3 linked regions of the Homo sapiens genome follow. The protein of the gene in region 1 interacts with the protein of each later gene in a biochemical or structural test. Each region holds a gene or a part of one and is shown on either strand. Other genes may lie near its edges.

Region 1 (7,096 bases):
GCTTAGACCAGTGGGATCTAGAGCCTGGGCAACTTCAGCAGGGCCCCAGGGGTGGCCAGGACTCATCCTTCATGACCACCAGCCCCTGCCCGGGCTTCACGACGCTCCCTGAGCTCCAGCAGTCTAAGCCTCTCGCTTTTTTGGTGACCTGAGCACCCCGGGACATGGGCCAGACGTACCTCCTCTGGAACCTGCAAAATAAAGGAGATGCAATTCAGATGCCGGAAAAGCAGTGTAAGAAAATGCATCACTGTGCTCTTCTCTTCCGCTGCCCCCGTTTTCTCTGTAGCATTAGCAATATCAACTAATTCAACCGAGTAACTGTTTTCCAAGGAACTCAAAGCCTCTCCAACACTGAAGAAAATCCTCTTATGTTGATAAGCCCTCACCTCCCTTCCTAACTTAGAGTATAAATCTCAGGCATGGAGATGTGAAGAGACTTGTCTAAGGTGGCAAAGCCCATATCGGCCTCCCACGCAGGGAAAGAGGGCCAGGCGGGCCCTGTTGGAGGAGGCAGCAGGCGAGGTGAAATACACCTGGGGCTAGGAGCCAGCAGTGCCGGCCTCTGTCAGCCAGGTCCAGTGGTCCGGTCTGCATTTCCTTGAGCAAGTCCCCTCTCCTCTCTGGCCTCAGTTTTCTTGTCTCAAAAATAGGACCCAGTGATCCCCAAGGTCCGTCCCAACTCTGAAAGCCCGTGGCTGCATTTCCAAGCCCATAAGCCGGTGGGAGGGAAGCTGTGTATCACAATTCCATTTGCATTGTCCTTGGATCGATTCTGTCCCAGATCCGAAGTCCTCAGCTCCTGTTTCAGAGACGGAGGGGTTTAGGCCTATGTGCATTTTTACAACTGATGGTATTTGCCCAGCTGCCTTTCTCAGGTGGGTGAGCAGGTAGAAGTCAGTGTTCCATGGGTGGCAACGTTGCCAGTGGTGAGCACAGAGCCTCCTCTCCTGACACCTCGTCTGGATTCTCCCAGGGGTGTGCTGGGAAACTGGCTCTTGGGAGAGGGTGGAAGCTCTGATTTGTACTATTTGCCACTTTCCATGGTGTAAACAGGTCCCTGCCAGGGCCATTTTTCAGGCTGCTGAAGGACCTCAGCAGACATGGGTCAGAGAAAAGAGATGGGCTTTGGGAGCCGGGAGGAGCCAGCTCCAGCCCATCAAACCGAAATGCATCCCCAGTCAGTGCCCTAAAGCCTTCCTTTCATCCCTCTCCTCGCATGGCTACCTGCAGCCCACGAAAGCTCTTTCTTGTTTTGCAGAAGGGAGTGGGGAGAGCCCAGGGGCCCAGCGTGTTGGGTGAGTTCTCAGTGCCCCAGCCCCAGCCTGAGGGCGGAGAGGAGACTGCAATGCGGCTGCCCTCTGGCTGTGGCTCAGAGTGAAAGGAAAACACGCATACAGCAGGAGTCTGTGTAGGGATCTGGGCTCCAGCCATCAGAGCCCTGGGGGGAGCATCATGACCAATGTTCCCCTGTCCCCAAGCTCTCCACCATCCAGGCCAATGACTTTGCCGAGCTCTGAGCAGCTGCACCCATGGACTCAGTCCTGCCCTCACAGTATTGCCTGATGTGGCCCAGTATATTCTGTTCTTTGAAGATGGGTAGGCTGACCAGAATGCCAGGCCTGGAGGATGTGAGAAGGGATGTGGAGGCCATTTGAGAGTGGAACTCCCTGCAGGCTGGCTGTGGGGGGCCCGTGAAGGGCTTAGAAGGCCCCACAACCCAGAGCCACTGCAGGGGCCTCCCTACGGGGGCTACTCCTGAGCCTGGCCAGGCTGGTAGTTTTGTTTTTCCTTGGCCAAGCTCCCGGTCTGGGATCCCATCCCCAGTTCTGCCTCTGGGGTCAGCTTTCCATGCAGGGGCTGAGATGAACACATGGGGAAGGGAGGGCAGGAGCCCCTGCGCTCTGCACCTCATAGATGCCAAAGCCGATGGTGTGCATGTCCTCGCCCATCTTCCTCTGCCGCCGTCGGTGCTTCTGAATGAGCCCCACCAGGAAGGTGCAGCCGCTCTCCCCATCCTCCTCGTCCTCATCCTCCTCCTCCAGCTTGATCAGGTACTGAGGGTTCATCCAGAATGTGTCTGCAGCCAGAAAGGGGCAGAGGAGCCCAGCCCTGAGCAGGAATGCATGGGGGTGGGGGGTGGCCCTGGTCTCAGGCTTGGAGGCTTCTGAGAGGGATGGAGATAAAGGGAGATGGTGGGAGGTGGTGGGAGATGGTAAGAGGTGGTGGGGGATGGTGGGAGATGGCAGAGTATGGCAGAAGATGGTGGGAGACAGCGGGAGATGTCAGAAAATGGCGGGAGATGGTGGGAGTTGGCAAGAGGCGGTGGGAGGCTGTGGGAGACAGTGGGAGATGGTGGGAGATGGCAGAGGATGGCAGAAGATGGTCAGAGACGGCAGGCGATGTTGGGAGAGGCTAGGAGGTGGGAGACACCAGGGTTGGAGTGTGGACTGCAGGCTTTGTTAGGCTGGAGACGGGTGACGGTAGCTGTGGAGAGAGGATGACCTGCACTTGTCTGAATCTAACAGGAACCTAAATTAGAAACTTTCTCTTGCAGTTCTCTCTCTGGCTCCAGGCTGGCTTGTCTTGGGGACTGGTCTGTCACTCTGGAACGCAGGGTGGTTAGAGCTGTGGCTTCCCCTCATGGTACCTTCTCTTCACTGGGCTCTGATGGGGAGCCTGGGGCGGGGCTCGGCTGGCCTGGGGGACTCCGGGATCTGCTCCCTGCACTTGCCGGTCGCCGCCCCCTCGGTGAGCCCGGAGGCCAAGAACATCCTGTGTATAATTCCAGACTCTTTCTTGTTCTGCGTCCCTTGTCCTCTCAGGCCTATTCCCTTGCCCTGCTCCTGATGTCTCTGCCCTCTTTACTTCCAAAACCTATTTATTTAAAAAATCTAAGATTCATTCATGTTTAAGGGGAATTATGCTAATTGCCTTTCCATACCTAATGGGATAAAACCCTAACTGTGAAATTACAGGCACCATCTTGTGTAGGGGTTGGCAGCTATGGCTCCGAAGGCCGCTGCCTGTTTTTGTAAATAACGTTTTATTGGAACGTAGCCACGGCCATTCGCTTAAGTATGGCTGCCTTTGGGTTATAGCAATAGAGTTGTTGTTATAGAGACTGAGTGGCCCACAAAGCCAAAATTATTTACTATCTGACCCTTTAGAGGGAGTTTTCCGACTCCTGATCTAGTGGGTAGGAGGGGTCCCTTGTGGGGGGCAGAGGGCCTTCCCAGCGCCTCTGGGACTGCCACTTGGTGGCTGCATACTTGAGGTGAAGGAGTCCGAGCCCCAGAACTGTAGGCCAGCTAGCCGCAGTCTGACTACTTGCTCTGTGGCCCTGGTATGCGACTTAGAGGCTCAGCTTCCTCATCTGTCACAGAGAATCACTATGTGACCATGATCTGCTGCCACTGTACTTACACAGTGACTCCTCAGTCAGGGGGCCTGGGTTCAAATCCCAGCACGCTCTGTGGCCTTCAGCAAGTCACTAGCCTCTCCAAGCCTCAGTTTCCTCATCTTAGAGATGGAGGTGATAAGAAAGTGCCTGCCTCAGAAGTTTGTTGGGAAGGTTAGATAGAATGTTATGCAGGCTGAATATCCCTTATCTGAAATTCCTGGGGCCAGAAGTGTTTCCTATTTTGGATTTTTTTGGATTTTGGAATATTTGTATATACATAACATATCTTAGGGATGGAACTCAAGTCTAATGACAAAACTCATTTCTGTTTCATATATAATTTATACACATAGGCTGAAGGTAATTCTATAGCATATTTAAAATAATTTTGTGCATGAAACAAAGTTTTGACTGTGTTTTGACTGCGACCTGTCACCTGAGGTCAAGTGTCGAATTTTCCACCTGTGGTATCATGTTGGGGCTGAAAAAGTTTTGGATTTTGGAGCATTTCAGATTTCACATTTTCAGATTATGGATCCTCACCCTGTGTACAAAACACTTAGGATAGTTCCAAGCACTGAAGGTGTGCCCCATAATTGGCAGATGTCATCATGTTCAGACAACTGCTGACGGACTAAGCCATGAAGGCAGAAGAATCAAGGGGCTCAACAAAGGCTGGACCAGAGGAGAAATCTTCACCCCATCTGGGCAGCGCCCAGTCAACATTTGCTGATTGAAGTGAGTATGGGGCAACAAACAGGGCCTGATATGTGGAGGGCTCCCTGGGTGCCGGGACAAGGTTCCCTTGTAGGCTCGGCTGCCTGGGTGTGGGGTGCATAGAGCAGCTCATGGCCGTGAAGTGGGATTGAGCACTGCTTCCGTGAGCATGGCGGAAGGTCAGGCTGAAGGTCATGATGGGCGCTGGGGAATCTAGGGCCTGGAGAGGACATCACAGAAACAGTGGCTCTTGGGTTTGTCCTGGGTAGGGCAGGAGGTAAGGGATTGAGAAAGAGAGCTCGGGGAGAAAAGGCTCAGGGAAAAGAAAAGGCTCAGGGAGAAAGAAGACAGAGAGGGTTCCAGTGAGCAGGAGCTGCCTCCTGGGGCTGCTAGGCTGGGGTGTGGTACACAGGGTGGGGTAAGGGGAGCTTTGGCCTTTGGTGGCCCCGCATTGCAACAGCCCTTATATGCAACAGCCCTTACTCGGGTAGTTCCTGCAACCTCCCGCGGTGGAGCCCCGCCTCCAGTTCCCATCCATTTTGGTGAGTTTCCACTTCTTGTAGGTATCGCTGGTGAGAGTGTCTGGGGTCAGGTTACAGATCTCCAGGCGGGAATAGTGCCTCAGGAAGTCACTGAAAGACATCCTGGCAAAAGCAGAGACAATCATCACAGGTGATAAGAAGACACACTGGTAAGCCTTGACTTTCCACCAACACCAGACCAGGAGCCACCCAAAGCCAGGCAGAGCAGCTCATTAGAACTGAGTGGATGGGCACCAGGTTCAGAATCAGAAGGCCCAGATTCCAGTCCTGGCGCTGCAACTTTCTAGCTGGGTGACTTTGAGCAGGTTACTTAAACTTCTCTGAAGCTCAGAACTCTCACCTGCAAAAATGGGAGCCGTGCCCATCAAATGTGACAATATATGGGCCCCATTTGATAAAGAGCATGTTGTGTCCAGGTGCAGGTGGTTATAGAGTGGCGCAGACACACAGACATGTGGGTCCATTGCTGCTCACTAAGGGACCAGTTTCTTAAGGGGCTGGGATGAGTCTCCGGAACCTGGGGGAGAAAGGCCCCATCTTTCCCTTGTTTCCTGGGATCTGAACATTACCAAAGGAATTCCTCTTAGCCTTTTTCTGAAGCTGCTCAGCTTATAAACCCCATTGTCAAGATGGACCGTTGAAGGGGCTTAAGAATTTCTTTATTCAGGCTCTTATAGTGAACTTAAAATAACAAAACCAGGATCCCACACGCTTGTGTCCTCGACATGGTAAACTCACTTTGGCCGACACTCTTTCTAATTAGCAGTTTTCTAGTAAAGAACATTGGGGCAGACAGAGCTTTCCCTGAAGCCTCCACTAATCTTACCAGAATTCTCCATCTTCATGCCGTCTGGTCAGCCTTTCCCTCTCCTCTGGGTCTATAGTGTTCCAGCTTGGGCAGCTGGAAAACAAAGTAAAGAGAGAGGCGTTAGTGTACGATGATTTCTCCCCAAAGGCCCCAGAGTTGAGGAAGAGGGACATCTGCTCTCACCTCTGAGGGCTCAGGCTCCAGAAAGGGGGAAAGTAGCCCACATCTGGCTAACAGCTGCATTTTAATACTCTTACAGCACTTTAAAGAGTATAGAACACTATACAGATGCAAACCAGGGAGCAAAGTGAGCGGGTGAGTTGTGCTGGAAGACAGTGGCAAGGAAGAGTCCAGAAAATGAACATAGTTCATTAGAGGGAGATGGAGTAGCTCAGAGCAGTTGCCCAATTGAGATGGGCCTGGCAGCTCTTTTAGAGACAACTGAAGATCTGATGAGGAGCCTCCGGCTGAGGCCTGGGAAGCCTCAGCAGGTGTCTCTCTGTCCACGGAGCAGAAGGACCTGGCCCTGTACACAGGGGCAGTGCACAGGGTAAACTAACCACTGCCTGAGCTTTGGCTGGAATTACACACAGGCCTCTGTACTGCCCACCTCTCCAACCTGAGGCAGAGCAAGTAGGCTGAGGTTGCCACAGCAGATGTACAAACAAGTGTTTACCCCAAATAGTTGAGGGTTCAACATGCCTACCAGTAAGCCCTGGAAATCAACAGAGGGATGTTTCTCTGGCCTTTGGTACAAAGTTCACATCCCTGTAATAGAAGTGCCTGGGGGAAGGTGGGGTGTATTTTTTTCCCTGAAAGCCCCATAGAAGGGTGGATTTGAGCTAGGGAAGGGGTGAACCTGGAGGCAGTGGCAGGAATGAACTTCACACGAGCAGCTTGGGGCCTGGAAGAAGGCACTCAGGCTGCTGGAGGAGTGTCCTGGTTAAAAGACCCTTTGAGGGGCCCCTGTCCACGGGTCCCTGTCCACGTGGCCTGGGCTCTCCTGGCTATATTTCTCAGAATAATGCACATGTCTTCTTCTCTCGCCCTCTTCCCAGAGCCTCCCAGCACAATGCACCCCCGCCTGGGGCCCCGAGGCCTGCGCCCTCCTCACTTGTCATTCCACCGCCCTGTCCACTCCACTTCTCCCCAGGGATTTCGGATGCGGATCAGTTTCTGTAGGCTTCCGTTACTTTCAACCTGCAGGATTAGATAAAAGGGAGGAGTAAGAGGTTGAGTTCAAGTCAGGGCTATGAAGGCTTGGGCCTCCAACCCCCTTCCGCATGAGCCAGGAGGTATGGGGCTGAGGACGGTGGGGAGGATTTGGGGGTTGAGTCCATGTATGAGGGAGGATCACAAGAGCTAGAGGGGGCTTGGCACCCAGACCTCTCACTGCTGCCTAGCTTTGGAAAATGAGATTTAAAGCTCCCAGGATCCGGCTCTCGAGGATGGGGCTGTTGGTGCTTCATCTCTGAACTTCAGCTTAACTGACAGGATGCGCTTTTGGTAAAGGAGCTCAGAGAAGCTTTACCATTTGTTGAAAGATCACTGGTGATAACAGGCACATGCAGTGAGTGAATCTGGATTGAGTCCTGGATGGGGTTGGGGTGGGTCGCCAGAAAGGAC
Region 2 (7,509 bases), on another chromosome or scaffold:
ACATGGAAGCATAGCCCCTAGTCCTGGGGTGGCCGTATTGCTGTAAGAACATTCTCCATCCATGGGAGATGTGGAATCAGATGACCTGAGCTCCATTTTCACACATCATACTAGCTGTGTGACCCTGAGCTGGTTGCTGAACCTCTATGTGCCTCAGTTTCTGCATTTACAAAATGAGGGTTAGTAGGAGCCTTCAAGACAATGCAGCAAGCCAAGTGCCTAGTTAATTGGTATTAATCTTTCCTGGGGAAGGGGGAGAATACCAGAATCTGAGGGGCTGAGAGGGTGGAGGTCCAGGAGCTGAGTGCTTTGGTGTAGATTCCTGGGTCTCGTGCTGTTGGGATCTTTACCTGGACACTGGTGAAGAACCCCATTGCCAGGTCTGCCCTTACCTGTTGGATGTGGGCCCCTCAGGATGGTCTGGGAGGAAGGCTGCAGTGTGAGTGGCCCCATTGTGAGAGGTGGCAGGCTGCAGGGTTTAGGGAAAAAATCCAGGGTCTGGGAACTGAGAGACTGGATCTCTGCTTTTTATGGGCTCTGTGACCTCTGATGAGTCACGCCACCTTTCTTGACGCAGTGTGGCTGTCTGTTAAGCAAGGGGGCTGGATTAGGCTAGCGGTGCCCTGAGACTAACCCTCCTGGCAAACACATTCGCTTGGACCTTCAGAGTGGTTTTTTTTTAAGCCAACACTTTCAAATTTGTATTTTTTCAATTTTGTAAAAATATTTTATATAAAATATGGAGTTGAGGGTTCTATGGCAGATCAAAACATGTGGAGATGTGGGCTTGTGTTGCTGCATGCTGTAGTGGGGAACCAAGGAGTGGGCATCCCCCTCAGCTGGGGCCTGTCCTCACCAGGCCCTTGTGACCCCTTGCCCGCTCCCCTCATTGAACTTCTAGGTGACCCCCAAAGGCTGTTACCGTGACCCCTGGGCAGCTGAGCTTGAAGACCTTTCCAGCTTTAAAATGCTCTGTTACCTTCAGATGCTGTGACCAGTGGTGACAAAGGAAAGGCTTAACGCCCTGGTAGGAGAGGGGTGGACATCAGTAAGAATATTTTGGTGGACAAGAGTCAAAGGAAAGGAAGAGTGAATTGGATGGGGCTGGGGCCTTGGCCTGGGAAACTCGTGTCATCGCAGAAGGTGGAGCTGGAAGGGACCTTGGAGGCCATCAGTCCTGTTATTCTACAGGTAAAGGAAACTGAGGCCCAGGGAGGGGCCTGCCAGGCTCAGGCTCTAAGGCCATTAGCTCATTCCTGACCACACTCACCCTTCCTTCTGCCTTGGCTCCACCCTCCTCCAGCCCCAGGGCCAGCACCACAGCCCACAGACCTGACTCTGTTTCTTCAGCTGGCTGCTGAGCAGGGGGCTGGAGGGATGAGCGGAGGGAGGTCTCCGCATGCAGCGGGAAGGCAGAAATGGGGATGGCACAGGGTTGGGGCTGGGTTCTGAGGCTTCTGGGATGCCAGTGTAGAGCCCCAGCCAGTCCTCCAGTGTGTACTCCATGTCTGCTGTGTGTGAGACAGGGGTCTGGGCACAGGGTGGGGATCCCAAGATGAATGAAACCATCCAGGCCTGCGGAGAGTCTGCAGCTGGCTAGAGCTTGGGAATGGGGCATTGGCAGCAGGCAGAGGTGGCTGCAGATAGGGTGGCACTGAAATTGTGGGCAAAAGTGTACAGGCAGGGCTGCCTGAGGCCCTTTTGAAGGGAAAAGAAGGAAGGTTTGGGAAGGAGGCAGTGAATGCTTACAGTAGGAAAATATGTTAGGATCCATTGACTAATTGATTGAGTGATTGAGTCATTCTTCAACCATGTCTGGTGCCTGCTGTATGCCAGGCTCTGGGGATACAAAACACAGGACACGTCCTTGCCCGTGTGTGGGTTGGGGTGGAGACACCAGGCTGTGAAGGAGGAATAAAGGCTGACAAGCCTGGAACAGGGTCATTACACACAGTTAGAGACACCTCAGTCGGCAGAGTTTAACATTCAACAGGGAAAATGGTGGTTAATTAGCAGGAAGGACATCTTGATGATAAGCGATTAATATACAGGAGAGACCCCATAGGCTTGGAGAAGAGGGATGGGGGTATTCTGGAGGGAGGGTTTCTCCAAGGGAACCCCCAGCACTAGGGTCCCCTACTTCCATTCACAGTCCTAGCTGAGGAGTCTGGGGAAGCAGCAGGGCCTCCTCGGGCTGTGTAGGAGGCCAGACAAGTTGGTGTCACTGTGACTTGGTTTTTGGTTTGATTTTCCAGCATTTCTGGGAAGCCCCAAGGTGACTTCTCAGAACTCCAGAGAAAGCTGCCTGGAGGCGTCTTCAGTGACGCCAGCAGTGAAGGGCTGTGGGAGCAGGCAGCGGGGAGCTTGGTGTGAGTGGGCACTGGGATGTCAGGGCTTAGCTGGCTGAAGGCTTGAACTTGTCAGGGGACAAGGGCAGCCTGGCAGAGCTGGTGATAGTGGCTGAGGAGGGGCTCAGGGGCTCTCAGAGAGGCCTCCTGAAGACCACTCCCCTTTGCTTGCCTGGTGCTCCAGCCAGGGGAGACGGGAGGGTTTGCAGAGGTTTCTGTCTATGGACATCCCCAGCTGTGACTGCAGGGCCAACTGCATGTGGAACACTGGTTCATTTCAGCGTTGGCTAAAATGTCAGTGAAGCCCCAGGAGGCTTAGAGTAGGGGGTCCAGAGGGACATTGTGATCCTGGCAGGGAAGGACACTAGAGGCAGGATCTTTCCCAGCCCCAGAGCTCTGGAGGACTTGGAGAAGTATGGAGAGAGGACCCTGACTCCTCTACCGGAACAAAGACTCTTCACTCAGGTACCTGCTTTAGGAAGGGCTGGAAATTGACACTTCACTTCAGTGTCCTCCCCTGACTTCTCAGAACCACCAAACAATAGATGGTTAGTCCCTTGTGCTGTGGACAACCTGTGTATCTGAATACTGCAGTCTTTTTTTCAGATGAAGAGTCAGTGTTTCCCCTTCATTCTGGGGTTTCCCAGGTAGATGTCTTGGGTGGTCCCTGGGCTGGGAGTTGGCACAAGTGGCTGGGCAGATCCCTGTGAAAGAGGAGGCTGGTAGTTGCACGGTATGTGGTGCTGACAGACAGCGGCATGGCATGGCCTTGGGTGAGTGGGGGGGGGAGGCAGGGGATCTGTAACCCTTCGTGCATGTGGCCCCAGGGCATGTATAGCACAGTGTGCATAGGAGGCCAGGCAAGAGAACTTTTCTTGCTAAGTGACTCAGTCTAGGAACGAGGTCTCCAAGTGCCTACTCTGGGAGGGCTCTTATGTGTTGACGTGAGTTGGACTGTGTCCTTGTGTGTGTGTGTGTCCACAGGAGGGTGTGGGGCTGAGCCCTCCCTCCTTCTCCTGGACAGCTCCAAAGAACAGAGCGGGTGATTCACTGGCCCCCACCCACCCTCAGTTGGTCCAGCCAAGGCCAGAGCTCAAAGAGGAAGGGTTTTTTTTGGAGGGGAACGTGGTGGTTCCAGACAATGAAGGCCTGGGGCAGACTTTGCTGGATTCCCCCTTAGTGCTCCGTGGGAATACTTTTGGGTTTTGACCCAGCCTCCTTTCCACCCTCTAGACCCCCAACAATTGTCCCTGGGCAGAGGTGGGGGCGAGGGGAGGGGAGGGCTGGTGGGCAGGGGACACTGAGGGGAAGAAATAGGCCTGTGGAATGGTGGGAGGGGAGAACTGGGCCCAGGGAGGGGGAGAGGGGAGGAGGGGGAGGAAGTGGGGAAATGCAAACCAAATGTTGGCCCCGGGTACAGTCAAGAAAAACACACTCTCGCGGGAGCCTGGAGCGGGGCTCCCTTTCAGAAGGGCAGGAAAGGCTGGGACAGATGTTTGCAGGAAAGAAAGAAAGAAGGGGGAAAAAAAAAGAAATAGGAAAAAAATTGGAATGAAACCCACAGCCTGGGGGCAGGGCCATTCTTCCCCAGTCTCGGGCCCTATTTCTTCTGTGTTAAGGCCTGTCCTGGGCTCTGAGCTTGGCGCGTGGGCACCAGAGTCTGTCCCAGTCTGTGTGTGCAAATGCATGTGTGTTCCGAGGAGGCCAGGAAGGCAGGCACGGGTACTCAGAGAAGGGGAGGGGCCAAGGCACCCTGAGTGTGCTGATTGTGTGGGCCTGGGGCTGTCTGTTCATCCATCAGTGGTCTGGAGGGTTCCAGGAGTGAAGGCCCCCAGGCTGGTTTGCCAGGGGCGGGGGTCTGCAGTGAGGAGGGAGGACTCCAGGCCTACCAGCACCAGATCAGAAGACTGAGGAGCCTTGGTGGCACACAGGGGTTGTGTGTCCGGGGGTGGGGGGCACGGCCTGGGGGGGCCCTGCCTCTGGTAGCTTTCCCTTTTCCCTGTCCCCTTTACACCCCCTGCAAAGCAGGGTTCCTGACCCTCAAGGCCACCGGTGGAGCCTGGGAGGAGGGAGGAGAGAGGAGGCTGGGACGAGGGGTGGAGTGGGGGGAGGAGGAGGAGGAGGGAGGGTGAGCTGGAGGCAGCAGGGCGAGAGGCCCAGCAGATGCTGGCGGAGCCGGAGCAGCCGCGGACTCAGAGAGCCCTTCTGCCAGCGCCGCGGGGACTCTAGCTTCAGGGGCTCTTCACAGGCCCTGGGCGTGCCTCAGTGACGGGACCCAGCAAAGATGACGTGGATCTGTCTGTCCTGCATGCTCTGGGTAGGTCTGGCTGCTTTAGCTGCGACGTTACTCTTCCTCAAACCCCCCGCCCCCCACCGGCCCCTGCCACCTTATCCTTTTGCTGAGAGCCCGGGGTCGGGGGGTGTCAGTCTTGAAGGAGGGGCCTTTCTGTCTCTGACCTACAGAAGGACAGACTGACTTGAGCAACCCTCAGCCGGAAGACTTTCCCCACCAACAGGGCCCAGGCCCAGGGTCCCGGGTCAGTACATCCCCTGCCCCACCCCCCCACCCCCCAATGGAGTCCCAGAGCTGTAAGTGGAAGGAGGCCACAGAGAAGTTTGCTTCTCTTTAGAGCCTTTCCTCCCGACTTGCATCCTACAATGGGGTGAAAATTCTTCACCGCCCCCCCTCAGTTGCTGAGCCCAAGATCTTGAGGAGGAGGCAGTGGTGGGGCTGGGGAGCAAAGAATAGTAGTCCAAAATATTAAGTCTGGAAGAGCTGGGCTGTGGGAGAATTCTCAGAGTCCATCCCTTTTATTCCTTCTACACCCAGTTTCAGCTTCCACCCACTGCCATCCCTTCCTCCACAGCCCTCCCCTGCTACCAAGACCTCTCCATCCTGGAGGAGGGAGCCATGGCCCGCTCTTCCCCCTTTCTCTCTTGGCTCCAGGTTCAGGGAGGTGGGTTTCAGGATGGGGATGCCAGGGGGGCCAGCAGAGAGGCCTGGGGGCCACGTGGTGAAGGTTAAAAGTCTTAAGGCCAGACCTGGGCTGAGGCTCCTGGGTAAAGGGGGATGGGAGAGGGCTGCCTGCTGCAGAAGGGCTGGGGGTCAGAGGAGGAGAGGACCCCTTCCTCAGAGGGGCTCCTGTGGGGCTGTCTTGGCCAGGCAAAGGCATGCATGGGGTCAGGAGGGTGAGGAAGTCGTCCCTGGCTGAGGTTACTGTTGGGCTCTGAGAGAGTGATGGCTGGTTTGGGGGAGGGGGCTTCAGGGCTGTGATCCAGATGTGGCCTTTCCTGTCCCTTTCCTTGTTCTGGCCAGTCCTCGGGAGGGCCCTCTTGGCCCAGGCAAGCCCATGCTGGGGGCAGTTGTGGGAACACAAACTCGGGCAGCCAGGTGTCCTCTGGGCAAAGAAAGAAAGGGTGGGGGAGGGGGCCTGGAATGAGGCGGTTTGGGTGGCATGTTGGGCTGGGGTGCTGGGATGGATTGGATTAATAGATTGAGAGTGACTGGGGAGGCCTGCACACAGGATGCATTTGTGGTTTACTGGGCTGGTGTTGACATCTGGGAAATGGGAGCCTTGGCCAGGTTCGTCTCTGTGCTGAGGACAGAGGTAGGCAGGAGGGAGCTCTGCAGCAAGAAGGATGGCAGGTAGACGTCCAGGGGTGACACAAGAAGGATGGCAGGTAGACCTCCAGGGGTGACGAGCTGCTGTGACTGGAGAGAGGGCTCTATAGATCCCTTCAGCTGACTGATACTGGGAAAAGTGCCTCATCCTGGTGAGCCTCTGCTTTCCCGTTGGTGAAATGAGGATTGCAGAGAAACAGGGTACAGAGAGGTAGGGATGAAATTTTGTATCCAATTCCCCAGGGCAGTGCCTGGCAGGTAGAGTGCCCTATGGGTGTTATACCCTCCCTGAGAGTAAGGGGAAGAGTCTGGGGACCAAGGCAGCTGTGAGTGCTGCTTCCTTGAGTGTCTTTATTTTTATTTATTCATTTTTTTTTTAATTGAGATGGAGTCTCACTCTGTCACCCAGGCTGGAGTGCAATGGCATGATCTTGGCTCACTATAACCTCTACCTCCTGGGTCCAAGCAATTCTCCTGCCTCAGCCTCCCGAGTAGCTGGGACTACAAGTGCGTGCCAACATGTCCAGCTAATTTTTTATATTTTTAGTAGAGATGGGGTTTCATCGTGTTGGCCAGGCTGGCCTCGAACTCCTGACCTCAAGTGATCCTCCCGTCTCAGCCTCCCAAAGTGCTGGGATTATAGGTGTGAGCCACTGCGCCTGGCCTTGAGTGTCTTTAAGACTAGAAAAGCCTGTGTCCCTCCCCTGTCTCCTTTTCCTCTCCTCTCCTAGTCCCCATCCTTTCTAGGCTGGCTGTGATGCCCATGGCCAGGATGGGCCAGAGACTGGGGCAGTAGGGACTGGACAGAGGAAGCAGTCCTGGCACCAGATAGGACTAGGCTCAAACCCTATTTCCATCGTTTGGTATGGGCAGGCTTGGTAAAGCAGTTCCCTTCATGAGCCTCAATTTCTTGATCTGTAAAGTGCAGAGAATAATATACTCCTTGTATGGCTAGGGTGGGGAAAGAGACAATAGATATCAAAAGATCAGGTATGTAGGCATGCAGTAGGTGCTCAGCAAATGCTGGCCCCTTTCCCACTCCACAGTCTCCTGCCTGGTTCTTGGGATCCTCTGTATCCCAGACCTGATGCTGGGGGAGGATCTCCCTGGGAATGGTGTCATGGGACAGGGCTCTACTCCTTGGGCTCTACTCCTGGGCTGACTGCCCAGGGACTCTGACCAGCTACTCTGAGGCCAGGAAGTGACTGAGATAGTTCTTGTGCCCTAGAGTGAGTGCTTGCATCTATTGGTTCACATGTTCCTGTATGGGGAAAGCTGCAATTGTGTCATCTAAGAAGTAATATATCTGTAGTGCATAGTTTTAACAAGTCCTAGGAATAAAAATCACTTTATTAGCTGAGGAGCAGAGCTATTTATTATGCATAACTTGATTTTCTCATCAAGTGCTCCCATTTGCTATTACATATTCAAGTACGGTTTATTTAGAAAATAATTGCATGCCTAGCAATTGAGGCTTTTTGATGTTGTGCTGGAGGAGTTAGAGGTGGAGGCCCTTCCTTCCAGAGGGACTCACTGGTC
Region 3 (7,000 bases), on another chromosome or scaffold:
AATAAGCTCTAGTAATATAATGATTGTGTTGCAATTTGAATCCAACTAAGTTTTTTTTTTCCGTTTCTTTTTTTTTTTTTTTTTGAGACAGGGTCTGACTCTCTCGACCAGGCTGGAGTGCGGTAGTGTGATTATGGCTCACTGTAGTCTCTACCTCCCCAGTTTCAGGTGATCCTTCTTCCTCTGCCTCCCAAGTAGCTGGGACTATAGGCATACACCACCACATCTGGCTAATTTTTGTACTATTTGTAGAGATGAGGTTTTGCCATGTTGCCCAGGCTGGTCTCGAACTCCTGGGTTGAAGCAATCAGCCTGCCTCAGCCTCCCGAAGTGCTAGGAATATACCATACCAGCTAACTAAGTTAATATATTTAAGTATTTCAAAGAGTTGATTCAAGTTTAAACTAATAAACTTCACTAAAATATAAGGTCCAAAATAGAGTCGCCAACAACACAAGGACCACATATTCAATCTAAGCATGAAAATTTAATTCTCATAATGAAATACTACCATATATTCCATACTGCAGGCCTCATTTTTACCTTTGCTCTTTTAGTTGTGCTAATTCTTCTCCAATAAGTTTTGGTCGATGCATCTGTTGGACCCTAATCATCTGCAGGAGTTGGTCAGCTTCGCAATCTGGCAGATCACCCTTAACGACAAATATAGAATAACCTAAAAAAAAAAGGCAAAAATCAACCTAACCAGTTAGTAAAGAGATTCAAAATTGATGTAAAACACTAGTAGATAAAAAGGCAGCACAGAACACTGGAAAAAAATACAAGCTGAGGATTCAGAAAGACTTTAGTCCAAATAATGATTCTTATACTTACTAGTAAAGTCGTCTAAGGTAAGTTACTTAAAGTCTCTGAGCCTCACTTTCTCCATTGTAAGACTGGAAGAGCCGTCTCATTGAGTGACTGTGAGAAATAAATATGTCTGTAAAGGGCCCTACTAATATAGTACTTGACTGAGCAGGCTACTCACTTACTGTTGTCAGAGTGGGTAACAGCAACTGATTTAGAATCAGACTGCCTGCATCTGATCCCAGTTCTCCCACTTCCTAGCTGCATTTGTCTTGGTTTCTACTGTTAAACATATGATACTAGTACCTTCCTGTGATGGTTAATATTATCAACTTGATTGGATTGAAGGCTACAAATTATTGTTTCTGGGTGTGTCTGCGAGGGTGTTGCCAAAGGAGATTAACATTTAAGCCAGTGAACTGGGAGAGGTAGACCCACCCTCAAACTGGGTGGTCACCATCTAATCAGCTGCCAGCTCAGCTAGAATAAAGCAGGCAGAAATAAGAGTGTGGAAGTACTAGACTTGCTGAGCCTTCATCTTTCTCCCATGCTGGATGCTTCCTGCCCTCAAACATCAGACTCCAAGTTCTTCATCTTTTGGACTCTTGAACTTACACCAGTGGTTTGCCAGGGGCTCTCAGGCCTTTTGCCACAGACTGAAGGCTGCACTGTCAGCTTCCCTACTTTTGAGGTTTTGGGACTTGGACTGGCTTCCTGGTTCCTCAGCCTGCAGAGAGCCTATTGTGGGACTTCACCTTGTGATCATACGAGTCGATACTCCTTAATACATTACCCTTCATATATACATCTACCTTATTAGTTCTGTCCCTCTAGAGAACCCTAATACACTTACTCACAGGGCTGCTGTGAGGACACAGATAATGTGTGCAATAACTAGTAACATGGCTAAAACTAATCATCTGCGGAAAGAGCTACCCCCACCCTGACCCACACATGTACACCCCTTGTAACTAAAAATAGGGGCTGGGAAGCCAAATACCTAAAAGCTATTTAAGGTGTCAAACGTGTGGTTTGCATCCCAAAAGAATTACATTAGTCTAGTGTGACTGTGTCTAAATATGATTCCAGAAATCCAGGGTTTCCCCAAGCTAGATGCTACACACAAAAACCAAGGATGGGCTATACCTAAAACAATCTAACTGATTTAAGTTTCTCTATCATTAATTTTTTTTTTTTTTTAATTTGAGATGGAGTCTCACTCTGTCACCCAGGCTGGAGTGCAGTGGTGCAATATTAGCTCACTGCAACCTCTGCCTCCCAGGAGGTTCAAGCGATTCTCCTGCCTCAGCCTCCTGAGTAGCTGGGATTACAGGCACCCACCACCACACCCAGTTAATGTTTGTATTTTTAGGAGAGGCAGGGTTTCACCATGTTGGCTGGGCTGGTCTCGAACTCCTGACCTCAGGTGATCTGCCCACCTCGGCCTCCCAAAGTGCTGGGATTACAGGTGTGAGCCACCGCGCCTAGCACATTTTTCTTAAACTTTGGTGTTTGTTATTGGATATCCTTTGTTGGATTAACACATAATGGGACAAAGATTATAAGAACTATTAATGGAAAACCTCAAAATAGTATGTTGAACATTTTTTATGAGGACAACTGTATTCAGAGTTTAGACGGTTTAATGTGTTTTCTGCCAGTAAAATTGTTTCTGTATTGTATAATAAATATGCCAGCTCACCATGGTATTCTATGAAGAGTGTCTGAAGAATGGATACTCTGCCCTGTTCAGGGGCCATGGTAAAGATCTTGGGTTTTATTCAAGACTTCACATATTTTTTTTTTTTAATTTTTTTTTGAGAGTCTCGTTCTGTCACCCAGGCTGGAGTGCAGTGGTATGATCTTGGCTCGCTGTAACCTCTGCCTCCCGGGTTCAAGTGATTCTCCTATCTCAGCCTCCCGAGTAGCTGGGACTACAGGTGCACAACACCACACCCAGTTAATTTTTGTATTTTTTGGTAGAGACAGGGTTTCACCATGTTGGCCAGGCTGGTCTCATCAACTCCTGACCTCAAGTGATCTGCCCCCTCATCCTCCCAAAGTGCTGGGATTGCAGGCATGAGCCACCAAGCCCGGCCTAAGACTTCAGATTTTATTCTAAGTGTGCTGGGAAGCCACTGAAGGACAAAGAGTGAGGGTGGGACATAACAGGCCTTACACTGGTTAAGAAGCACTCTGGGCTGCTCTGTCGGTATAATATATAGGAACCAGAGTACAAGAGTCACCCTTATGGAAATGGAAAACCTGATGGATAGCATGGATAGAGAGAAAAAAATAAGTCTTTCATAGACATGTTCAGTTTGAAACACTTTTTGGATTTCCAAGTGGAGATGCCAAAGCTAGGAGTTAGTCAAAGCTAGGTGTTCAGGGTAGATGTCAAGACTAAAGATAAAAGTTTGGTAATTATTGACACATAGATCTTATTTACAGATGATATTTAAGATCCATGAAAGGAATCTGAAAAGTGCAGGCAGCAAGTTAGGAAAACCACAGCATGGTGGGCTGAAGGCCAAAGGTAGACAGGGTTTCTAAGAAGGGATATCATCAGGAACCAAGGTTTTAAATATAAAAGAAAAAAGATACAAGTATCTAAAATCAAAGAATTAAAAACCCTATATTCCTAAATGTGAATTCACAATAACTACATAACAAACCCAGCAGCAATAAGCATGCCAGCACTCAAATTGTGATCTCCAAATACCATTACTAAAAGATGGCTAGGCAAGGTGACTCACGCCTGTAATCCCAGCACTTTGGGAGGCTGAGGCAGGTGGATCACTCGAGGCCAGGAATTCGAGACCAACCTGGCCAATATGGTGAAACCCTGTCTCTACTAAAAATACAAAAAAAAAAAAAAAAAATTTAGCCGGGGCCAGGCGCAGTGGCTCATGCCTGTAATCCCAGCACTTTAGGGGGCCGAGGTGGGCGGCTCACCTGAGGTCAGGAGTTGGAGACCAGCCTAACAAACATGGAGAAACCCCTTCCATCTCTACTAAAATACAAAATTAGCCAGGCATGGTGGCACATGCCTGTAAATCCAGCTACTCGGGAGGCTGAGGCAAGAAAATCGCTTGAACCCAGGAGGCAGAAGTTACGGTGAGCCGAGATCACGCCATTGCACTCCAGCCGGAGCAACAAGAGGGAAACTCCATCTCAAAAAAAAAAAAAAAAAATTAGCCGGTCATGGTGGTGCACGCCTGTAATCCCAGCTACTCGGGAGGTTGAGGCAGGAGAATCGCTTGAACCCAGGAGGCAGAGTTCAAGAAAAGGAGAAGGCACACTAGAGACAATCCTAAGGAAAAAATAAAAATGGGGAGGCAGCTGGAGTTTCATGGAATTAAGAGAGGATTTTTATTTTTAATCAATGGAAATAAAAAGCTTATTTTACTGCTTATAGGAATATTACAAAAAAAGGGGGGGGGAACTGATTATATAAGAGAGTGGAGAGATGAAAGCAGGAACATCTTGAGTAGGTGAGAAGAGCTGGGATCCAGCCCACAAGTGAGGGACTGGTTTTGGTTAGAGGTAGGGGACCATTCATCTATTTAAATAGGCTCAAAGCACAGGTGAAGATATAAGCAAATTGATAAATTTGCTGGTAGAAAGAACATAATTTTAATTGCTTCTATGTTCTCAGCAGAATGTAACGGAAAGCCACAAGGAAGGTGTGTAAGGGAGAGGAAAGTGCTTAAAGGTTTAAAGACATAAGCTGTGAAATTAGTCACCTTGGAGGGTGGCACATTATTTTTTATAAACTTCTTGGAGAGTGGTACATAATTTTTTATAAACACCTTGGAGGGTGGTACATCACTAAGAAAACATAGTAGAAATATCAGACAGCACTAAAGGCTCATCTGAATTTTGTGATTATAATAAATTTAAAGTAAAACCTTAGCTAGGTGTGGTAGCACAAGCCTGTAGTCCCAGCTACTCAACAGGCTAAGGCAAGAGAATCACTTGAGCCCAGGAGTTTGGAGCTGCAATGAGCTGTGATTATGCTGCTGCACTCCAGCCTGGGCTTCAGAAATAGGCCTAGTCACTTTGATAGATGGATGGGTGAATGGATGGATAGATCATTTAAGAAAAAAGTAAAACCAATCATCATGTTTTATGTTATTTTTTAGCCACGTCCAGCTACTCTGGTACAGGAATGGACAAGGCCAAGATGTGGTTTAACCAGGGTTGAGATTTTTGTCATTCAAGTATGATGGAGGGAGAGAGGGGAAACACGTTGAAGAATGCAATGGAGTGATTATGATGACGGATTACAGAAAATAAGCAGTAGAAGAAAGGAAGAATGCGTATAAAGGAAATGCTTGGGCCCCACAGTAGGGTTTAAAGAATGGCTGGAATAAAAAAACAGACAAAACATGGTTTAAAGATAGGAGGTGGTAGTTAAAGAGTAATATGCTTGCAATTGAGATTTGACAGTGGTTATGATTACTGGTAATAGCTAAGCAAGAGTAAGTGATTTTGAAACTAAGAGGCAGGTACTGGATTGATTGACGATACAGAAATAATTAAGAATGATAAAAGTAGTTGAAGTAGAGAAAAAGACAACGAGTCAGATCCTAAAATCACTGATGAAAAGAGACTTGTGGATGAGTGCAAAAGGACAAGGGATAGTTTAATCTAGGGGCATGTATTTCTTTTTTTTTTCTTTTCTTTTTTTTTTTGAGACGGAGTCTCGCTCTGTCGCCCAGGCTGGAGGGCAGTGGCGCGATCTCAGCTCACTGCAAGCTCCGCCTCCTGGGTTCACGCCATTCTCCTGCCTCAGCCTCCCGAGTAGCTCGGACTACAGGCGTCCGCCACCACACCCCGGCTAATTTTTTGTTATTTTTAGTAGAGACAGGATTTCACCGTGTTAGCCAGGATGGTCTCGATCTCCTGACATCGTGATCCGCCTGCCTCAGCCTCCCAAAGTGCTGGGATTACAGGCGTGAGCCACCGTGCCCAGCCGTTAGGGGCATGTATTTCAAAGAAACTGGAGTTTATAAGGAAGAACAGTGGCCTAGAAGAGGCAAAGAAGAAAAACATCTATCCCTCCTCTCAGCCGTGTGATATGTGATGTATAAAAGAAAAAGCCATTACTTAGAAGGGCTGCAAAGAAAGCAGCATCCTCAGAAGAGGAAGGGCCAGGTGTCAGTGAGAACTCTAACTGAACAGCGTCACCCAAATCACAGCCTATCACCACGTCAAAACTAAAGATTGTTTCACTGCCACTGCCAGAAAAACAGTTTTATCACACTGTCATCTAATGTGCCTGGTTATTTAACTACTTCGAAAGGTAACATTACAAAATGTTCAGCCGTTACTTACCTTCCTGTTGTAATTGAGCCAAGAAAAGTGCAAGATATGTATCTGATATTAATTCTGGACCCGTCAAGAGAGAATTCAAGTTAAACCACTGGAAAAAAATTGTCAATATTTAAGTTAGTGTATATTATAGGTAATAAGGAAGTTTCACATGTTAAGAATAGATACAACCCATCAAAGCTTAGTAAGATTGTTTAAACTCTGGAAATATTTCAAGTTGAGCTCTTTTCTTTGACTGAATAATATGATCTTAAAAACTACAAGAGAATACTGCAGATTTATCACTATTAAATACTTTTTTTTTTTTTTGAGAAGAGTCTCACTCTGTAACCCAGGCTGGAGTGCAGTGGCATGATCTCGGATCACTGCAACCTCTGCCTCCCAGGTTCAAGTGATTCTCCTGCCTCAGCCTCCCAAGTAGCTGGGACTACAGGTCTGCACCACCACACCCAGCTAATTTTTGTATTTTTAGTTAGAGACAGCACATTTGCCACATTGGCCAGGCTGGTCTCAAACTCCTGACCTCAAATGATCCGCCCGCCTCAGCCTCCCAAAGTTCTGGGATTACAAACATGAGCCACTGCACCTGGCCTCTGCTAAATACTCTTTTTTTTTTTTTTTTTTTTTTTTTAGACAGAGTATTGCTCTGTCGCCCAGGCTGGAGTGCAGTGGCGCGATCTCGGCTCACTGCAAGCTCCGCCTCCCGGGTTCATGCCATCCTCCTGCCTCAGCCTCCCGAGTAGCTGGGACTACAGGCGCACGCCGCCACACCCAGCTATTTTTTTGTATTTTTAGTAGAGACAGGGTTTCACCATGTTAGCCAGGATGGTCTTGATCTCTTGACCTTGTGATCCGC

The links. The genes of interacting proteins can lie anywhere in the genome.
Region 2: of the proteins of CAPN2 (region 1) and TNS1, one has a biochemical effect on the other in vitro, tested with the Homo sapiens proteins (one study listed by IntAct).
Region 3: of the proteins of CAPN2 (region 1) and ATXN3, one has a biochemical effect on the other in vitro, tested with the Homo sapiens proteins (2 studies listed by BioGRID).

The regions. Positions count from the first base shown.
Region 1 is NC_000001.11:223,750,464-223,757,559, reverse strand, and holds part of CAPN2 (calpain-2 catalytic subunit), read right to left. Parts: intron 6,671-7,096; coding exon 6,585-6,670; intron 5,564-6,584; coding exon 5,489-5,563; intron 4,765-5,488; coding exon 4,604-4,764; intron 2,081-4,603; coding exon 1,911-2,080; intron 192-1,910; coding exon 180-191; intron 1-179. UniProt on the Homo sapiens protein: Calcium-regulated non-lysosomal thiol-protease which catalyzes limited proteolysis of substrates involved in cytoskeletal remodeling and signal transduction. Proteolytically cleaves MYOC at 'Arg-226'.
Region 2 is NC_000002.12:217,999,996-218,007,504, reverse strand, and holds the start of TNS1 (tensin-1), read left to right. Parts: upstream 1-4,509; 5' UTR 4,510-4,632; coding exon 4,633-4,665; intron 4,666-7,509.
Region 3 is NC_000014.9:92,082,583-92,089,582, forward strand, and holds part of ATXN3 (ataxin-3 reference isoform), read right to left. Parts: intron 6,236-7,000; coding exon 6,148-6,235; intron 922-6,147; exon of another isoform or gene 831-921; intron 677-830; coding exon 544-676; intron 1-543. UniProt on the Homo sapiens protein: Deubiquitinating enzyme involved in protein homeostasis maintenance, transcription, cytoskeleton regulation, myogenesis and degradation of misfolded chaperone substrates.